4 linked regions of the Homo sapiens genome follow. The protein of the gene in region 4 purifies or fractionates together with the protein of the main gene of each other region. This does not show direct contact. Each region holds a gene or a part of one and is shown on either strand. Other genes may lie near its edges.

Region 1 (3,500 bases), on a different chromosome or scaffold from region 4:
CCCAGTGGCATAAATGCCAAGAACTGGCCAGGTGCAGTGGCTCACGCCTGTAATCCTAGCACTTTGGGAGGCCAAGGCAGGCGGATCACTTGAGGTCAGGAGTTAGAGACCAGCCTGACCAACATGGTAAAACCCCGTCTCTACTAAAAATACAAAAATTAGCTGGGCGTGGTGGTACGTACCTGTAATCCCAGCTACTTGGGAGGCTGAGGCAGGAGAATCGCTTAAAGCCAGGAGGCGGAGGTTGCAGCAAGCCAAGATTACGCCACTGCACTCCAGCCTGGGCAACGGTGCGACACTCCGTCTCAAATAAATAAAAAATAAAAGCCAAGAATTCCTACATGAAATAAGCAAAAGCAGGCAAAAGTTTTCAGTAAGTTCTATACAGTTCTATTTTTTAATGTAACCTTAATTTCCGAGTGATCTTCTAAAGCCGAGGACTAAACTGAATAATCTCTCCCCGCTGTGCTCTCTCTAACAGCAAAATAGGCATGGTGATACCATTTGCATCTAGAATTTCATTTGGAAAGGGCTCAGAGACACTCCAAAAAAGTAGTCGTGCAAAACTCATCTTTCAGCACTGCCAGTTTAAAGCTAGCAAGATACCTTGAACACTAAGGCCTTAAATCATGGTACTAATAACAATAGCCAACATTTGTTGAATGCTTACTACCTTCTAAGTATTTTTTGCATTCTCAAAATAATCCTATGAGACAGAAATTTTACAAATGAGAAAATTTGTAAATCCATAACAGAGTTTTTAACAGATAAAGAAATTTATTACAGGTATGTGGTAAATTGAGAGAGGAAGATAAGGACTACACACAAAGCTAAATCCCTGCTAGGTCCAAAACTGGCAGCCAGAAAAAAGCAAGGCAAAAGATGATGAGGACCAAAATTCAAAAGCCTGCAAAGCTCCTCCATAACCCGTGCACCGCTCCCTTTTCCTCCCCTGTCCAATTAACTCTTTGTCTTCACGCAATCTATCACAGAGATTCTCAAAGCATCAACGTCACCTGGGAACTTGTAAGTCATATAAATCTTCAGGCCCCACCTCAGACCTACTGAATTAGAAACCCTAAGGTCCAGCAATCGGTGTTACAATGAGCCCTCCAGATGATCTCTAATGCATGTTTGAGATCATTTGGTCGTTTAAGTTCTAACACCCTCAAAAAACAGGTGGTCAGCAGTGCCTCATATAGTACAATCTTAGTTACTGCCAGGTATTGGTTGACTGGTCATCTCGCCCTATTTTCCTTAATGCAGGAAAGAACCTATAAATTAGCTACTTTCTACAGTAGCTTTTCTTTTAAAAGATAAGCTTGCTTACAAATATAAGTGATATTATCTACTGGCTTTTATTACAGAGTAGTTTCAAGAATTATAGTTACAGTATTTTCAAATAGGATGTCTTTACAAATGTTATTTCACTTCCTGAAAAGACTGTAATTATTTGGCCTCCTGACAAAATGATACTGAGTAATTAATCTGAACATAAGAAAAACGTTTTCAGGCACAGGTTCTCATTACAAACATTCCCTGAGTGTTAGAGCTGACCGACATCATCCTTCTAATAAATAATCTAGAAAAAGGGCAGACTATACAAATTCATGGTAACTTGACAATTGGCTGTCCATTTTTTTTTTAAAAAAAGTAAAATTCATACCTCACATTTCTGAAAGACAGTACATTCAAACTGAGTAACTGAGGAGAGTACAAAAAGGGAACTATTTACAAAGGTATAGCAGAGTTTACGGAAACCAAAAAAGATGGTGCAGTATCCTAGGACTAGCAATAACAGAAAGTCATTACCGCCCCTAGGCCTGAAGGGGCAAGGGGAGAGAGCAAGCAGAGAGGGTCACTGTGTTAGGAAGCCTCCTTCTGGGTAACACAGCAAACCCATAATGGTGACCTGGCAGGGAGGGAGCTGGGAAATAAACATGAAGCAAAAACGGACAGAACTAAAAGTGGAAATAGAAAAATGCACAATCACATCTAGATATTAATAGCTTTAAGTAGCTCTCTTGGTAAATAATGGAAGAAGTAGGAAAAAATAAAGAAGGATACAGGATAAGGATAATTTTTTCTCAGCCTTCTGGCAAAGACCAAGTATAGACGTAAAGAAAGAGAAGATTGGAAAACATTATTAATCACTTGGCCTAAATGACATTTATGGAACACTACACCCAACAACAGAATGCATATTCTATTTATTATTTATTTAAGTATTACTGCAAGTATGTTTTTATTTTCTCAACCTATCAACTGAATATTGTATTTTATAAAGCACTTTTTAGTATTGTAATTGGTTCCTCATGATCAGAATGCATATCCTTTTTAAATGCACATGGAACATTCACCAAAATAAATTATAGGCTGGACCATAAAGCAAGTCTCAAGGAATTTAAAGATGAGACCAGGCACAATGGCTGGTGCCTATAATCCCAGCACTTTGGGAGGCCGAGGTGGGTGGATCACCTGAGGCCAGGAGTTTGAGACCAGCCAGACCAACATAGTGAAACCCCATCTCTACTAAAAATACAAAATTAGCTGAGCGTGGTGGCTGGCACATGCCTGTAATCCTAGCTACTTGGGAGACTGAAGCAGGAGAATTGCTTGAACCAGGGAGGCGGAGGTTGCAGTGAGCCGAGATAGCGCCATTGCACTCCAGCCTGGGCAACAAGAGTGAAACTCTGTGTCAAAAAAAATTAAAAAAGAAAATTAAAGGATGGAAGTCATAAAGATTATGTTTTCTTACCACAGTGGAATTAAACTGGAAATCAGTAACAAAAAGGTAACTGGAAAATCCCCAAACATTTGGAAATCAAGCAACAGGCTTCTTAAAAAATCCAAAAAATAAATCACAACGGAAATTGGACTCATTGGGAAACAGGGTGGTGATCAATGAGCCACATCTGCAATAGACAAAAGGGAAAAGTTATGACATTCATATGGACCAGGCATCTGCCATCTCTGCCTCAAACATTGATGTTCTTGGCCATCTTCTGTTACTACACTACACTTTCCTCAGTCATTTAATCCATACCAATGTCCCAACTCTGACCTCTATACAACCTTTTTTTTTTTTTCAGTTAAGGGTACTCTTCAAACACCATATACAACTAATTCTTTAAATGTCTATTTTGGCTCAGATCTCTCTCCTGAGTTTCATACCTGCCAGTAGCCTACTGGAGACTTTACCTAGATATTCCAGAGACAACTCAACAAACACACAGAAACAGAATTCTATATTGTCCATTGTGTGCGCCTAACCACCTCTAACCAGCTCCACCTCTTGTATTCCTATCTCAGTGACTAACACTTTATCTCCTCAGCCTAGAAGACCTTCCACATCTCTCTCACACCACTTGCCCTCTACACAACTACTACTGAAATATCTTCATCTCCCCATTGAACCTTCCCTAACTTTTCCTCTAGCACAAATTGATCACTCCATTAGTCTTTCTGCTAGCACAGGATCTGATTTATGCTTCTGTAAT
Region 2 (3,500 bases), on a different chromosome or scaffold from region 4:
TAACCCAGTGGAAAAAAGAAAACATTGCCTGGCCCAACACTGCCACTTATAATTTAACAACCATTGCTCTCTCTCGACTTACAAAAATTCTGGCCAATATTATTTTTTATTTCCTATCAATATTAGATAAATATGGAATGAGTACATTGCTTTAAAACATAAACTCAATTTGAAACATTTACTATTACTGCCAATAAAAATGTAGCACATAACACTACTGAAATCTTACATTAGTTCATAAGCCTATTTGATTAATCTTTGTCTACCCTACTAGACTAAGTTTCAACAGAACAGGGGCCATCTGTTTTGAAAGACACAAACATTTAAACTAATGGAAAGACACAAACATTTAAACCAGTGTTGCAGAACAGAAAGACCCATCATGATAAAGATGTCAGTTCTCACAAAGTTAATTTAAAATGTGATACAATCCCATAAAAATACCCCTCACTCCTACCCATGGAGCTAGACGAACTGCTTAAAATTCATTTGGAAGAATAATAAAATAAGAATGAACTAAGAAAACTGATTTAAAAAAAGAGCAAAGCTATTGTTATCAGATTTTAAAGCATACAATAAAACATTTCTAATTAAAAGTGTGGTACTAAAAAAGTATGGTACTAACTCATGGACAGATGGATCAGTGAAATAGAAAAGAAAATCTAAAAAGAGACCAAACTGTATATGGAAATTGCTTTATAACAGCACAAGTGAATAAAATTCAAAGGGATAATGAAAATAATTTTTTAAAAATATATTTCCTTGTTTTAGAAATGTAAATGTTATTGCATGATTTCACATATTTAATACTGTATAAAGTTTCACTGTTCTACGCTCTAATTTTCTGCATTTATTACCACTTCTAAGGATCTTGCTTAGTTACCAAATTAGAGCTGTTCTTCAGTAATGCTATAATTATTCAGAAAACAACTCTTGCATAGAATACAATTTACAATGATAAAAGCAATTAAAAGTACAAAAGAAGAACAGTGTACCTCCTTTTAAATCTTAAGACTGAATAAGCTCTTTTTATTTTCTTTCAAAAAAACATGATCATAATAAATAATGGAACTGGTTATTACAAAAAGCAAACACATACTCTTTAGTGAATATCCCCCGAGGGCCAGTGGCTGTGCCCTGGCTAGCATCCAGTGAGTGTTTTTCCAGAATATTGCGGGCAGCTGGACTTAAACGGAACCTAAGAAAAAAATATGAAGGTTAATAGAACCAATTAACACTTACATTTGATTCAAATAGATCTAAATGTCAACAGTTTCGCAAATAATTAAAAAAAAATCTTATAATAAAGCTAAAATGACTCCCACAGATGGTCACAGTCAAATAATCTGTACCAATTTGGTTTATTTTATTCTTTAAACACTTTCGTAAAAATTTAGTTACTATTTCTAAATATGATTTTAATAAGAATAAATATTAATTAGGGGAAAGAGCTGCTATTTCAACTAATTACTTTCACATGGGTGCTCATCACAACTACCAATTGTTTCCTTCGTATATTTTGTTCTATCATTTCTTCATATATTTTGTATTGTGGCAAATGATACCTAAAATTTATCATTTTAAGCATTTTTAGGTGTACAACTGAGTGGCATTTAGTACAATCACACTATTGTGCAACCATCACCACCATCTATCTCCAGAAATGTTCATCTTTCCAAATTGAAACTCTGTATCTATTAAACAGTAACTCTCCATTCCTCCTTCCTCCCAACCCCTGGTAACCATTCTCTTTGTCTCTGTCAATTTGACTACTCTAGGTAACTCACATAAGTAGAATCATACAGTTATTTGTTTTGTGACTGGCTTATTTTACTGAGCATAATATTCTCAAGGTTTATCCATGCAGCATTTATCAGAATTTCCTTCCTAAAAAGCTGAATCACATTTCATAGCATTTTGGACTTATGAGTTGTTTCTACCATTTTGCTACTGTGAATAATGTTGCTATGAACATAGATGTACAAATATCTCTTTCCAGTCTTTGCTTTCAGTTATTTTGCATATATATCTGGAAGTGGACCTACTAGATGATATGGTAATTTTAATTTTCTAAGAAACTGCCATACTGTTTTCCACAGTAGCTGCAGCATTTTACACTTCCACTAGGCAACAACAAGGGTTCCAAATTATCCATGTCCTTGCCAACACTTGTTATAATCTGGGTCTGGTTTGGTTTTTGTTTGTTTGTTTGTTTTGATACTAGCCATCCTGAAGGGTATGAAGGGGTGTCTCATTGTGGTTTTGATTTTCATTTCCCTAATGGTTAGTGACGGTGAACATATTTTTCATGTGCCTGCTGGCCATCTATGTATCTTCTTGGGAGAAATGCTATTAAAGTTCTTCACCTGTTTTTTAATTGGGTTGTTTTGCTGAGGTTGAATTGTATGTATACACAATTATATATATTTATTATATATATAGGATACCTCAGATTACATGACTAATGGTATATCTCTTGTATGCAAAGTAGTAAACAAATTACTACATGGTCAGATAAAGAAAATAAGCCTGATTAGTACAGATTAAAACAGGCTGGATCTAGAAATTAAAGCTAAGAGACAGAAACAACTGTGGAACTTGCTGCATTTCAGGGAAGTATTAAATAACTCTGATATGGGCCCAATGTTACTAAATCTTTAGATTTTTCAAGAGAATCTGAAATTTTAGATTTTTATATAGGATTAGTAACCAACCAACCAAAAAAAAATTTTTTTTTCATTCACTGTGTGCCCAACAGTATGCAGAGTTCACAGGTCAGTAGGTTTTTAACCTACACAGTGGGGCCTGATTCATGCGAGTCTCTGATGATGACTGATCTTAATTAGGGTACATACTATTATTATCTTTGCAAGGGCAGAAGACCATTAGTTAGAAAGCATCAGTGAGACTGTCTTCCAATTTTTAGGGTAAATGAAAGAGGAGACAGTAAATGGGAGTCAAGGCAACAGAGTCAGAAACACTGCACTAGGAATTTAAAATCAGTACTTCAAAAAGCAGGCCAGGCGCAGTGGCTCACGCCTGTAATCCCAGCACTTTGGGAGGCCGAGGCAGGCGGATCATGAAGTCAGGAGTTCGAGACCAGCCTGGCCAACATGGAGAAACTCCATCTCTACCAAAAATACAAAAAAATTAGCCAGGCATGGTGGCACATGCCTGTAATTCCAGCTACTCAGGAGGCTGAGGCAGGAGAATCGCTTGAACCCAGAAGACCGAGGTTGCGGTAAGCTGAGATTGCACCATTGCACTCCAGCCTGGACAATGAGATCAAAACTCCGTCACCCACCTCCGCACGCCCCCCCCTAAAAAAAGCACTGTGGATTCTTTTCTGACAATGATAAACTAAAGGAAAAAATGTTTAAGAATGAAGAGGTCTACTTTATGAAGATCTTTTTCTCGTAAAGAAAAAGTAATGTTGTATAATTATATAGAATACTAAATAAATGAAATGTTAGAATTTACAGAGTTCTTCTATTAAAGCA
Region 3 (3,974 bases), on a different chromosome or scaffold from region 4:
AGCCTCTGCTCTGGGTTGAGATCAATACATGACAACATCTCATCTCCGCAGGTACAGAGCTCACATATGTTGGTGCTTGTGGAGGCCTTGTGTTCCTCTGGTGCAGTTAAAGCCTTATTTTGGGTGTAACTTTCAGACTGCACCAGTGAATCCTGAGCAGGTTCTAGTTCAGTAGGTGGACCTGTGACTTCAGTCAGGCTTCGATGCAGAGTCTGAACCCGGTCTGGACGAGGAGCTGTAGTCTTCTCCAGGGCTGTAGAATGTCTAGTCTCTGTAGTGGGTTCTGGAATGATGGCAAGTCCCAGGTCTGGAGGCTGAGTTGAGGTCTCCTCCGTGGTTGGAGATGGTTTAACCTCTGTAGTAGGTTTTGTAGTTATGGTAAGCTCCAGGTCCAGAGGTTGAACGGTGGCTTGAGTCAGGTGTGAATGCTGAGCCTGACCCTTGTCTGAAGGTGGAAGTGTCACCTCAGGGTGTCCTGGAGGAGGAGCTGTAGTCATCAGGGCTGTAGAAGGTTCAACCTCTGTCATGGATTTTGGAGTGATGGTAAACCCCAGGTCCAAAGGTTGAACTGTGGCTCGAGTCAGGTGTGAATGCTGAGTCTGAACCTGGTCTGGATGTGGAAGTGTCACCTCAGGATGCTTTGGAGAAACTATAGTCCTCTTCGGGGGTGTAGAATGTCCAACCTCCGTAGTAGGTTCTGGAGTGATGGTAAGTCCCAGGTCCAAAAGTTGAACTGTAACGCTGGGTGACACTGGATGCTGAGCTTGATCCTGACCTGGTGTTGGATTTGTTACCCCTTGATATACTCGAAGTTGGGGTACAACTTTCTTAGGAGGCTGAGTTGGGGTCTCCTTCATGGTTGGAGAAAGTTCAACCTCTGTCTTGGATTCTGGAGTGATGGTAAACCCCAGATCCAAAGGTTGAACTGTGGCTTGAGTCAGGTGTGAATGCTCTGGAGGTTGAGCTACAACTACATTAGGGAACTCTGGAGTCTGAGCTGGGGCCTCCTGATGGGTTAGGGAAGACTCACCCTCCTCAGCGGTCTGTGGATGCTCAGCTGCAGCCTCCTGCTGGGTTGGAGAGGGGTTCTCATTATTAATAGGTTCCGGAGATTGAAATGAAGTCTCCTGTTGAACTGCTAAAGGTCCAGCTTCTTCTGATGACTCTGGAAGCAGAGGTGGGCCCCCGTGCTGGATGGCGGGAGGTTCTACATCATTACCTGACCCTGAGAGCCGAGTTGTAGCCTCCTGGTGGACTAGAGAAGTTCCCACCTCTGCACTAGGCTCTGCTGCTATGGTGAGCTGCACGTCTGGAGGCTTCACAGAGACACTGGGTGAAGCTAAATGATGAGTTTGATGGTGACCTGGAGGTGAAACTGTGACTTCATGATGTTCTGGAGGCTGACCTGGGGTCTCCTGCTGGGTCGGAGAAGATTCGACCTCCCTAGGAGACTCAGAAGGCTGAACTGGCTGCTGCTGCTCACTGATGGAAAGTTCATGCTCCATAGGAGGAACTGGAGGCTCAATTGGGGCCTCCTGTTGGGTTGCAGAAGGTTCCACCTCCTCTGGAAACTGAATTGGGGTCTCCTGCTGGGCTTGGGAAGATTCTGTCTCATTGGTAGGCTCTGAAGTTATGGTAACCTCCACATCTGCAGGTTTAACTGTAATGTTGGGCAAGTGATAATAAGCTTGATCCTCACCTGGAGGTTGAACTGACACCTCATGATTCGGTAGAGTTAGACTCTCCATAGAGGACTCTGGAGGCAGAGCTGGGGCCTCCTGCTGCATTGAAGAAGGTTCTTCCTCAAGGAGCTGTGGAAGCTGTGCTGGGGCTTCTTGCTGGAGTGAAGAGGACTGGATGTCTTCAAGGGTCTCTGGATTTTGAGTTTCGGGCTCTAGATGGAATTGAGAAGGTCCAACTTGCTCAGAGGGCCCTGGAGGCTCATCTGACTTCACCCGGAGTTCTGGAGGCAGGCTACCGGGATACGGTGTATCTGTACTGGAATATTCATTCTGCAAAGTCTGTTTCTGACTCTGAGGTGTGGATAATTGGCGTGTAATTCCAATAATCTCAGCAAGGCTCCAACGCTGAGCTGGATCTTTCTTCAGCTTCTTGGGCGAAACAGGGAGTCTTTCCTGTGGACTCAGCTTGTCCTTTAAATCCTGCTGTGAAGCCAAGAACTGCTCTGGCTCCAGGGGCTGCTCTCCAGCTGAATCCCAGGTGTCCAGGAATGGAACCAAATTTTCAGTCGATTCCTGGGGTGGGGCTGGCATCTCTGAGGAAGCAGAGGGCCCCAGGTGATCAAAGTCCCACGGGTCTGCTGGGAGAGTAGGCGCATGGGGAGATTCCCGTGGGAAATGGGAGGAGTGGGAAGACCAGGAGTCAGGCGGCCCCAGGGGATTAGAGGTGAGCTGGAGCGGGTCCTTGACCCACTCCAGAGGCTGAGCCTCCTTAACTAGTAGCCACAATAGTTGCCACATAAGGAGGGGCCATGGGCCCCAGAAACGCAGCCGGGACATGACACACACTAGTGCCGGGCACTGAGCAGAAGACATTCTGGCAGCTCCGAGACGCTCGTGCCCCTTCTAAGCGTGAGCCCCGCCCTGTCTTTATGACACCTTTATTTATGTCACAGATCTGCTCCATGTCACCAGGGCACTCTTATGTCACAATCCCGCCCAAGCACGCCTTCCCATCCTGCCCTGCCGGAACACCCCTCTCCTCCCCTTAGTGAGGAAGGATTTGGGCCTCAGACCCTGGTGGTCCCAGGACTCCAGCGCCTGCTGTGGTGGGGTAGGGTGGGGTAGGGTGGGGTGGGGGCGCGGCAGAGCTTCCCAAGGAAGTCACCGGACCTCGCCTCAGGATATTCAGAAGTGCTAGTTCAGTTCTGGCAGCCTTCCTCCTTTAAGGTGAAATCCGAGAACACTCTTCCTTCCAGGGAGAGCAACTGACCTGCAAAATGGGCGCCAGGATGCACATTACAGTCACTTATTCCAAAGTGTTGCCATTTTCGCTAAACTGTCGCATGTTTGATAATTAATTCACCACCCTATTAGGTAGGGGCTGCCAGGGAATAAGCGAGGACTCCACATTTTCTGTAGGAGGGGTGTTGGGAGTTGGCAATTCGGTCTGGGAGAGAAGGTTTTAATCCGAGTGAAGAGCCCTTTGCACTAGCCTGGGAGGAGGCTGAACTGTCATCCTGCCTTGACTCAACACAGCCATTCCCCTAGAAGTTACAGCACTTCTAGGGTCACCTGTGTTCAGAGATCTACCCTGTGTGCACACATGGAGAAGAGGCTTAGGTTGTTAAAGTCAGCATGTTAAATCATTTCCTGAAATGCGACTGTAACTAGAACCCAGCTGACTTCCCCCACAGCCGTTCTTACCTATTTTATTACTGTCTGGCATAATTACCAGCATGTAAACTCCAAGAAGGTGCTTCATCTTATTTTAGTGCCTGGCATAGACATAGGGTGCATAGTGATGGCTTTAAAATTGAAGGGGGGCCGGGTGTGGTGGCTCACACCCATAATCCCAGAACTTTGGGAGGCCGAGGTGGGGGGATCACTGAGGTCAGAAGTTCGAGACCAGCCTAACCAACATGGTGAAACTCCGTCTCTACTAAAAATACAAAATTAGCCAGGTGTGATGGTGCATACCTGCAATCCCAGCTACTCAGGAGGCCAAAGCAGGAGAATCGCTTGAACCTGGGAGGCAGAGGTTGCAGTGAGCCGAGATCACAACATTGCACTTCAGCCTGGGCAACAAGAGAGAAACTCCATCTCAAAAAAATAAAATAAAATAAAATGGAAGAGATTCCAAGATTCACCTCATTTAGGGATGGAGCTATTGTTATAATCAGATTTCTGAAATGAGTGCTGACTTCCTCTCACATTTCACAGGAAGCTAGACTTCTTAAAGCTTGAAGTCTCCTTGGTGGGTTTTATTTAAATTGAATTAAAATAATTATTTTA
Region 4 (3,500 bases):
TACTTACCTTTTTGCATCAAGGGTCTCAATGTCAGTCAAGTATTAACTAAAACTGTTATTAATAAACTTTATTATTCAGATTTTTACCTTTTACTACAAAAACTGCACACTATCTGATACTGCTTGGATAACTACAGTCTAACACTGAAACACAGCTCCTTTTAAAAATATCATTTCTAGATCACTGCCCAGGAAATGTCTTGGAGTGTAAGTATACACTGAGTATGGTGTACTGCTCTGAACTGGAAACTGTAGGTTCCAGATGCCAGTTATCAACACTACTCTGCTCCTAAAGTTCCCCTATCCCCTGCTCCTTTTCCTTCCCCTGCTGCCTTCTGGTCCTTGCATCCTTGCTGCTGCTGAGCCTGTTCCCCTAGGACCGACTCTGCTACAACCAGATACAGGGTCAGCCTCCACTCTGAGTTTGGCCAACCTCCTTCCTAGTACCATTGTTTTGGGTTCACCATCACGATACCATCCCACTCCATTCTACTAGTTAGAAAGAACACAGAGCTTGGCATGATGCAACAACCTGTAGCCGTAGTGGTTGCTAAAGCAATGACAGTTGGCTTGTCTCAGGGTAACAGCAAGTCTTATTTTGGTTTGAGTCAGGCCCTGGAGTGGCAAAACAACTGGAGACATGTTGAAGCCATCATCCTTGGCTGGTTCAAACTACATCTTAGAGAACAGAAGGAGTTTTAGAAAGAACTGTATATGAAACTTAGCCAATTATATTTTCACAATTGTTTGATTCTATATTAAAAAAAATCAAAGCACTTACTATTTCAAATTTTTGTTTTAGAAGCAACCTCGCTCTGTCACCCAGGCTGGAGTGCAGCAGCACAATCATAGCTCACTGCAGCCTGGAACGCCTAGGTTCAAGAAATTCTATCACACCTCAGCCTCTGGAGTAGTTGGGATTATAGGCGTGAGCCACCATGCTTGGCTATTTTGGATTTTAATTTTGGACTCAAAATGTAAGCATGTTGATGTTAGTCTTTGGCTGGTTTAAAACATTCCTTTGAAGACAATATGCCTGAGAGCTAATTTAGACACAAACTGTTTCTAAAGGCTTACTCTTTTATATTTCCACCCTTATATAATCATACCACTGTAGAGAAAGATCCCAGGAATAAGACCCCAAAGCATGCTACAAAAGTGGCATGATAGAGAAACTACCACTGTTTAATGGGTGCAAGGTTTCCTTTTAGGGTGATAAAAATGTTTTGGAACTAGACAGAGGTGGTGATTGCACATTGTGGATGTACTGAATGACACTGAATTACACTTTAAAATGGTTAGTTGTAGGTCATGTGAACTTCAACATGAAAAAGGTTTTTTTTTTTTTTTAAAAAAAAAAGGAAAGAAAAAATAAACTACCACCATTCTCTCTGCTACCACAGAGCACTAAAATCTAGGAATTTGACTTTACTGCAGCCATTAACACCAGCACTGATGCCACTTCTGTATCAGGAACTTAACCTGACAACCATGAAAGGTCCTCTGAAAGCCAGATGATACATATGGCAAAACTCATGACAGCATATGGACAACTGCACAGAACTTGTGCTTCATGTTGCTGAGTGCAGATGTTTCTAATTACCGAAGTTACTGTCTGCCTCCTAGCAGCAAAAGAGACTTGAGGAAGTAAGGTTCATAACATGGAGGTTCACTAAAGTATAGAAAGGCCATTCAAAAGGTTGTGGGCTTCCACAAAAATGGTAAGTATTCATTACATCCTCCTAGCCTTCTGTGGATGCCAAGAGTTTGATTAAGTTCTAAGAGAGAGGAGATCTTCTTTACCTTCCAGAGGATGCAGGCAAATTGGCTTTGCTAAAGCACCCAATGTCTGCTTATGATCACTATACTCTCATCAATACTTCCCAGGTCTCCAGAATTAGGACAGTCATTTGTTGTTAAATTAGCTGTATATTTCTCCCAGCGATCATATTCTCATGAAGCCTGATCAACGACTGACCCATTTGGTCATAGGACTATGCTATCCAAGAGAGGACCCAGTGATGCCACCACTGAAGGTATCTATGAAATTAAATGGTTTTATGTCTATAATAGTACAGAGTTTTATGGTCACGCAAAGTATGTATAAAATCTGGCTCATGGAGTTTGGGAAGAATAGTGATTGGACTGCAGAAATTATAGCATCTATCAGGTTTGGGGGAGGGGGAGTTGTGGGGGTAGTAGTTAGTGAATATCAGCACGCTGACCTTTTCAAACAGGTGGTAAATGTCTTTCCACAGATCCTGCCCCTATGTTGGTCAGAGAGAAGCAAAGTAGGTGAATTATTTTCCAATAATTAATATTAGCATAAATGGGGCAAACATGAAAATGAAAATCTAAAGAAACCCACTCAGCACAGCTTTCATGAGCTCAGTGCCGACTCAAGATTTACAGAGAGGCTGAGCACGGTGGTTCATGCCTGCTATCCCAACACTTTGGGAGGCCAAGGCAGGAGGATCACTTGAGCTCAGGAGTTCGAGACCAGCCTGGCCAACACGGTGAAACCCCGTCTCTACTAAAAATACAAAAATTAGCTGGGCATGGTGGCAGGCACCTGTAGTCCCAGCTACTTGGAGGCTGAGGCAGGAGAATCACTTGAACCCAGGAAGCAGACGCTGCACTGAGCTGAGATCACACCACTACACTCTGGCCTGGGCAAAAGAGCAAGACTCTGCTTCCAAAAAAAAAAAAAAAAAAAAAAAATTACAGTGTAGACCAAACCTGGACAGTCTAGTTAGCTCCACTCACATATCTTTAAGCTCAGAGGCTCTTGAACGCCTATGTGTCCCACCCAGAGGCCTCCAGTGTCCTTGACTGTTCATAGTGGAATAGAAGGAGGCATTATGGTATTTGGTTCTATCTCTTGTGCCTCCTGTTGACTGGATCCTCACTTAGAAATAAAAGACTGACACAACCCAATGGATGGGCTGGGGTAAGATGCCAAGGAGAGTAATATAGGTGTGTCACTAACTAAATGGGCCAACCAAGCCCTGTGCCTCCTTCTTAAAATGGGGAGTCTATAGAGGGAAAAGTTTTCTCTGAGAGCCTCAGGAATGTTAAGCCTGGCATCTACAAATGTATCTTTGGGGCTGAGATCTTGAATCTTATACTTGCTTAATAAGCCATTTACTGCCTGCCATTTGGAAGATAAGAAAGAAAAGGGCATCAGAGATCAATGCCCCTAATGATAGTTGGATAAGAACATACCCAATATAAAGCTCCAAAATAATCTCGAAACTAGAAAAGTAGTCTGGCCACATCATATTGTGGCACAAAACAGTAACACTCAAGCAGCCCTGGACTGGGCCAGTGAAATTTTACTGCTGACCCTTCCAAGTCTAAATGGAGAGGGCTAGACAAGAGGGCAAAGTCAAGTTCATGGTGTTGCCATTGGACATACTGCCATTTACTCAATTATGGACACCACATCAAAGACCAAGTGAATAAGGTGGAACTATGTTACTTAGCTATCTCTAGTCCTC

Evidence for each region. The genes of interacting proteins can lie anywhere in the genome.
Region 1: the proteins of PDK1 (region 4) and VWA8 purify together in Homo sapiens (affinity purification with mass spectrometry; one large-scale study listed by BioGRID and IntAct). This does not show direct contact.
Region 2: the proteins of PDK1 (region 4) and PDHX purify together in Homo sapiens (affinity purification with mass spectrometry, with the first as the bait; 2 studies listed by BioGRID). This does not show direct contact.
Region 3: the proteins of PDK1 (region 4) and LRRC37A2 purify together in Homo sapiens (affinity purification with mass spectrometry; one large-scale study listed by BioGRID and IntAct). This does not show direct contact.

Annotation. Positions count from the first base shown.
Region 1 is NC_000013.11:41,951,110-41,954,609, forward strand, and holds part of VWA8 (von Willebrand factor A domain-containing protein 8 isoform a precursor), read right to left. Parts: intron 1-3,500. UniProt on the Homo sapiens protein: Exhibits ATPase activity in vitro.
Region 2 is NC_000011.10:34,958,118-34,961,617, reverse strand, and holds part of PDHX (pyruvate dehydrogenase protein X component, mitochondrial isoform 1 precursor), read right to left. Parts: intron 1,199-3,500; coding exon 1,100-1,198; intron 1-1,099.
Region 3 is NC_000017.11:46,511,294-46,515,267, reverse strand, and holds the start of LRRC37A2 (leucine-rich repeat-containing protein 37A2 isoform 1 precursor), read right to left. Parts: upstream 2,801-3,974; 5' UTR 2,556-2,800; coding exon 1-2,555.
Region 4 is NC_000002.12:172,604,590-172,608,089, reverse strand, and holds part of PDK1 ([Pyruvate dehydrogenase (acetyl-transferring)] kinase isozyme 1, mitochondrial isoform 2 precursor), read right to left. Parts: 3' UTR 1-3,500. UniProt on the Homo sapiens protein: Kinase that plays a key role in regulation of glucose and fatty acid metabolism and homeostasis via phosphorylation of the pyruvate dehydrogenase subunits PDHA1 and PDHA2.